2 separate regions of the Homo sapiens genome follow, and region 1 is reported to be linked to region 2. The links are microRNA targets in miRTarBase. Many come from high-throughput screens and were not tested one by one. Region 2 holds a microRNA gene; the other region holds the end of a gene's coding sequence.

What was found. Region 2 holds the annotated microRNA hsa-miR-4677-3p (UCUGUGAGACCAAAGAACUACU, at 1,323-1,344, shown strand). A microRNA usually pairs through its seed, bases 2 to 8, with sites in the 3' UTR of a target mRNA and lowers its output. Matches are read on the target gene's strand: a 7mer-m8 pairs with bases 2 to 8, a 7mer-A1 pairs with bases 2 to 7 and ends in A, and an 8mer does both.
Region 1: the mRNA of NR2F6 is a reported target of hsa-miR-4677-3p. The part of its 3' UTR that is shown has no 7-base or 8-base seed match.

Annotation. Positions count from the first base shown.
Region 1 is chr19:17,229,944-17,232,943 of GRCh38, reverse strand. It overlaps NR2F6 (nuclear receptor subfamily 2 group F member 6), which reads left to right. Exons shown (of 4, transcript NM_005234.4): 4 at 318-1,061. The coding sequence ends at 592. Among named protein-coding and RNA genes, the nearest start is that of OCEL1, 5.2 kb to the right of the region's middle.
Region 2 is chr1:243,344,903-243,348,153 of GRCh38, forward strand. It overlaps MIR4677 (microRNA 4677), which reads left to right and starts at 1,274; the gene lies at 1,274-1,353. All of the region lies in intron 12 of SDCCAG8 (SHH signaling and ciliogenesis regulator SDCCAG8), which reads left to right.

The sequences.
Region 1 (3,000 bases), not on the chromosome of region 2:
ACTCCTGACCTCAAGTGATCCACCTGCCTCAGCCTCCCAAAGTGCTGGGATTACAGGCGTGAGCTACTGTGCCCAGCCCCAGCTGATTTGTTTTTGCAGAGAAGGGATCATACTATGTTGCCCTGGCTGGTCTCAAATCCTGGCCTTAAATGATGCTTCTGCCTTGGCCTCCCAAAGTGCTGGGACTGTGGCCGTGAGCCATCATGCCCGGCCCCCTGTTCTTACCCACAGTGGCGAGTGGTGTCCCCTAGTCACCCCTGTGGGCTCTGTGTTCTCTAGCTGCCTCCCACCTGTCTGACTTGCCTTTGTCCCCCTAGACGCCTGTGGCCTCTCAGACCCGGCCCACGTTGAGAGCCTGCAGGAGAAGGCGCAGGTGGCCCTCACCGAGTATGTGCGGGCGCAGTACCCGTCCCAGCCCCAGCGCTTCGGGCGCCTGCTGCTGCGGCTCCCCGCCCTGCGCGCGGTCCCTGCCTCCCTCATCTCCCAGCTGTTCTTCATGCGCCTGGTGGGGAAGACGCCCATTGAGACACTGATCAGAGACATGCTGCTGTCGGGGAGTACCTTCAACTGGCCCTACGGCTCGGGCCAGTGACCATGACGGGGCCACGTGTGCTGTGGCCAGGCCTGCAGACAGACCTCAAGGGACAGGGAATGCTGAGGCCTCGAGGGGCCTCCCGGGGCCCAGGACTCTGGCTTCTCTCCTCAGACTTCTATTTTTTAAAGACTGTGAAATGTTTGTCTTTTCTGTTTTTTAAATGATCATGAAACCAAAAAGAGACTGATCATCCAGGCCTCAGCCTCATCCTCCCCAGGACCCCTGTCCAGGATGGAGGGTCCAATCCTAGGACAGCCTTGTTCCTCAGCACCCCTAGCATGAACTTGTGGGATGGTGGGGTTGGCTTCCCTGGCATGATGGACAAAGGCCTGGCGTCGGCCAGAGGGGCTGCTCCAGTGGGCAGGGGTAGCTAGCGTGTGCCAGGCAGATCCTCTGGACACGTAACCTATGTCAGACACTACATGATGACTCAAGGCCAATAATAAAGACATTTCCTACCTGCACAGCCTCCCTGGTCTTTATTTTTATTTTTTATTTTTGAGACGGAGTCCTACTTCGTCACCCAGGCTGGAGTGCAGTGGCGTGATCTTGGCTCACTGTAACCTCTGCCTCACAGGTTCAAGCGATTCTCCTGCCTCAGCCTCCCCAGTAGCTGGAACTACAGGCACCCACCACGATGCCCAGCTAATTTTATTTTTGGTAGAGATGGGGTTTCACCATGTTGACCAGGTTGGTCTCGAACTCCTGACCTCAGGTGATGCACCTGAGGCCTCCAAAAGTGGATTACAAGCGTGAGCCACTGTGCCTAGCCTCACTTACTTTCTTTTGGTCAACCTTAATCTTTTTTTTTTTTTTTTTTTTTTTTTTTGAGATGGAGTTTCGCTGTTTCACCTGGGCTGGAGTGCAGTGGTGCAATCTTGGCTCAGTGCAACCTCTGCCTCCCGAGTTGGAGCAATTCTCCTGCCTCAGCCTCCTGAGTAGTTGGGATTACAGGTGCGCACCACCACGTTCAGCTGATTTTTGTACCTTAACTAGAGGGGTTTTGCCATGTTGGCCAGGCTGGTCTCGAACTCCTGACAGGTGATCCACCTGCCTTGGCCTCCCAAAGTGGTGTGATTATAGGCATGAGCTGCCGGGCCCTTAATCTTGTTTGGGCTCCAATGTCCTTGGGAGAAACCTCTGGGGCCAGTCCTGTCACATGATGTAAGGCGAGCCAATCAGAGACCACCATTCCCTGGGCCACAGCAACTGGTTTATGGAGGCCCTGGGATGCCAAACTAGCCAGTGAGATTGCACGGTGGGATTTGGAACTGGGAGAATCTAATTAAAGCAGAGCCAAGGATGGAAGATCAATTTCCCAAGATGCCTTTGGAGCCCCAGATCAAGCCATACCTGAAACCCTTGGGTGTTTTAAGTTCTGTGAACTCAGTCTCCCCCCTTTTGTGCCTGAGTCAATCTGACTTCAGTTTTTTTTCTCACATGGAACTAAAAATCTGTTTCAGAGATTGACGTTTGGGAGTCAGGCACCTACAAGGCCAAGACTTTGAAATGTGGGCTTCACTGGGTTGATACGGAATCATGTGGGGTACCAGGGACTCTCCCGTCCCAGCCTCGGGAGTGTGTGGCACAGCTCTGTGGTGGGAAAGGCACCTGTGGAATTCAGCACCAGAGCTGTAGGGCAGAGAGAAAGGGCCCGAATGGTGGTGGGGGTGGCACCTCTCACTGATGTCCTTCTGTAGCCAGGCGTGGTGGCAGGAGCCTGTAATCCCAGCTACTCGGGAGACTCAGGCACGAGAATCACTTGAACCTGGAAGGCGGAGGTTGCAGTGAGCTGAGATCGCACCACTACACTCCACTCTGGGCAACAGAGGAAGACTGTCTGAAAAAAAAAAAAAAAAGAAAGATGCCCTCCTGAAAACAGCAAGGGAAGAAGTCAAGTCTGTCACGCTGCCTGCTGGGCCAGTGCTCAGCTCTTAAGCAGCCCCAGTTTGCCAAAATGCTCCCTAGTCTCCCCATGTCCATCTTGAAGAAAGCCTTGGAAGACGAGAGATTAGGCCCCTCCTGTGGAGTCAGTGAGGGTTTCTTGTGGGCACGTTCCCAGAAGGGAACTGAGGCAGGGGCGGGATGGAGAGGACACCAGGTTCTCGTTGAAGGCTGCACTGGGTTTTGCATTAGGTCAGGGTCTCTCCATGGTGTCCTGTGAGTGAGTGGGTCCATGTCTACTCCAGTCAAACTGGACAGCAAGGTCTCATTTATCCAATGCACAGGACATCTGAGGGTTGAGTGAGACCATGGTGTCTGTCCTGCTGTTTGGCCCCAGGCCAGAGATCTGGATGTCTGTCCAAGGCCTGACTGCTGAACTCCTACTTTTCCTACAAAACCCTACCCACATGGCCCTTCCTGCGGGAAGAGATCTTGAGCCTCCCTGGCTATTAAGACTCTGC
Region 2 (3,251 bases):
AGATGAAGTAGATAACTCCAATTTTAGTTGACAACATGGATAAAGTTTTTAGAGAGGCAGTTCTAATAGGCTGACTTTTGATTTTCTATTTTTATGTTACAGTACAGGACCTTGAAGGTTTTCATTCTTTGTATTCAATGAAAGCAGGTTGTTTATTCAATTAAAATAGTAAGACTGGGTTCTTAGTGTCAATATTTTAAAATAATTGTTTTAGAATTTAGAAGTAGGTCGCTCCAAATAAGTTTTTTTTCAAATATGTTTCTAGTTCGAGGTTTTTCATCATATTTTCCAACATATTTTCTCTTTTGAGCCAATGAAGTCTTTACAACAAATGATGCAAAGACAATTGGGAAAAGTATTGAAAATGAAAGTGATAATGAAGACTAGAACAAAAAGCTTTTCAAGTCATAACTGAAATCCTTAGTACTAAATTAAAATCCTGGCAACCAAAGTAAAATTCTGCTTTTGTACCACTATATTTGGTGTTGTAATGGGTTTTACATTTTCAGAAGACTTTTAATTATTAACATGTACAAATAATGAAACATTTTATTGCATCCAGTTGGGGGCGTGCCTGATAGTGGAATGGAAAATGCTTTCTGTCAGGGACTGAAGGCCTAGGTCTACTAAGTTTATCACAGATAACTTTTCTTTCCTGATATATTGTAATTTTTTAAAAAGGAATCAATATATTGGCATACTTTTGGCCTTTCGTATTATTCTACAGCATTCTGACAGCATAATATTTTGGACTAACTGCAAAAATACATCAGGAAAGAGTCTCAGTTATTTAAAATTCCATTATAATTTTCTAGAGGAAAAAAGATCAGGGACAATAGGAGTATAATATCACTTGTAAAGGAATAACTTGTTTAGAAGCATTTGCAATATTAGAAGTATTTGCAGTATTAAATCTCATTTTAATTAATCCGTGATGGTATGGAGGCTAAAGTTGCAGGATTTACAAGGAGCAGTTTTCATTTGTAAACGTTTTCTGATAATAGTGAAACAATAGTAGTTTTCATAATGACGTTTAGTGGTATGTTTTTAGATAGAGATGTGCCTTTTTAGGAGGTCACAGCTTTAGGAATAAAACCTCTGAACAGTTACAAGATGTTTGTGATGTGTTGTGAAGTGATGTGCTTGTTACCATTTTTTTTTCCCAGACGGAATGTGAGGAAATCTTATAGGTACTCTTTTTAACTGTTTTGTATTGAACAGACAGTTTCAGAAAAGAAGTCGTGGTGTCTCATTCCATGGATGATTTGGAGTAGCAAAGCAGCAATTGTTCTTTGGTCTTTCAGCCATGACCTGACCTTCTGTCTGTGAGACCAAAGAACTACTTTGCTTGGCCACCATCTGCACTCAAGAGAGAAATTTACATTTAACTTTTAAAAGCGGGGCATGTTGAGCATTTATCTGAAATACCTACAATAATATAAAGTAGATTAAATGTTTAAGTGTTGTGTATCTTACAATTCAGCATCACAAGCAGGCTATCTGTAGGTTTGCAAACAAGGTGTTCTTCATAATATAGTCATTTTATTCATATTTTAGTTCATCTGACCACTTGATACATTTTTAAAGTGGGTGGGAAACTGTGAGATTGGAATGTGTGAGAACAACAGCTTTTTTGATGTATACAAAATAGGGCAAATGGTTAACCACCAAAATAATTTTCCTTGTGACCTGAGCCTTGGCTCTGGCATAATTAGAAGGAAAGGTTAGGAGAGTAACAATGGCAGTCGCTTCCACCCACTTTCTTCTTTTCTTCTTTATATTGTGTCAGGAACCGATGGGCGGATTATCCTTCCCATCAACTCCTTTGTATCTCTTCAGCTTAGAGAATTCCTGTCAGCCTCAGAGGATGCTTCTTGCACCAGAAAAAGAGGCATTTGGTATGGAGGAGAATGTGAAATATGCTCTTTGATTTTTATGAGAAATTTTTTTAGGCAATGGTTATACACACACACACACTCGATCAGGGGAATTTAAAAACATGTATGAGGGTATAGGGAATATTGTAATGAGTCCTCACATTTCCATCACCTACACTCATCATTTTGCCCGTCCTCTTCCTCAGTCCTATTCCATCACTCATCATTTTGCCAGTCCCCTTCCTCAATCCTATTCCATCACTCATCATTTTGCCAGTCCTCCTCCTCAATCCTATTCCATCTATCTCACTTTTTTCTCTCTACTTCTGTCCTCATCGTCACCTTCATCTTCTTTGTCATGTTTTTTCTGCTCCACCTTCTCATCTTCATCTTCTTCTGTCTTCTTCCTCTACCTCTTTTTCTTCTTTTGCAGAAGTATTTTAAATGGATCTCAGACCTTATGTTATTTTACTCATAAATACCCATGTGGATCTATGAAGGATATTTTTACATACTATGTCATTATCATACCTAACAATGTTAACAATACTTCTTTAATATCAAATAACACCCAGCCTATATTCACATTTCTTTGTCTCAAAAATGTTGATTTTACAGTTGGTTTATTCAAATTAGGAGAACAAGTATGTTTTTGTATGTCCAATTTTCTGGTGTTACCCTTTTTAATAGGAAATAAACAGAACTCTTAGTAAAATTTCATCTTTCTTTGTTGTTGTCTGTTAAATTTTGTACATAATGTTTTGATTATGCTTTATTTTTATAAAATGCCTCATTGTCATTCTAAAGAGGTATAAATTAATCCTACAGCAAAGTATGTGAAGGAAATGGCTACCACGCAGCATTCCTGATAATCATATCCCAAAAGGAGCTTCCTCGCATCCGAAACCCCAAATTCAGCATTAATTTCACAGCCTTGTATTTAAGATTTGGACATGTTGCAGGAGGCCCTAACATGACAAGGATGAGCTGACCTGAAATGAGTGATGCAGAAATAGAGTTTTTTTGTCAACTTCCCTTTTGGTAAATTAATCTGAGAAGACGATTCTTTATAGCCGCTAACCTTTGATTAGGGCCCAGTGCAAAGTGAAAATACAGGACCCTTTTGTTCAGAAAGCAGGAAAGAAGTGATATTAAAAAGAACTAAAATATAAAACATTTTCCTTTCTTCTTCAGTCTCTCTCTCCTTGCCCCTCCTCCCTCACCAACCCAGGCTGGACATGCATTTTTTTTTTTTTTCTTTTTTTTTTTTTTTTAGGACGGAGTCTCCCTCTGTCGCCCAGGCTGGAGTGCAGTGGCGCGATCTCGGCTCACTGCAAGCTCCGCCTCCCGGGTTCATGCCATTCTCCCGCCTCA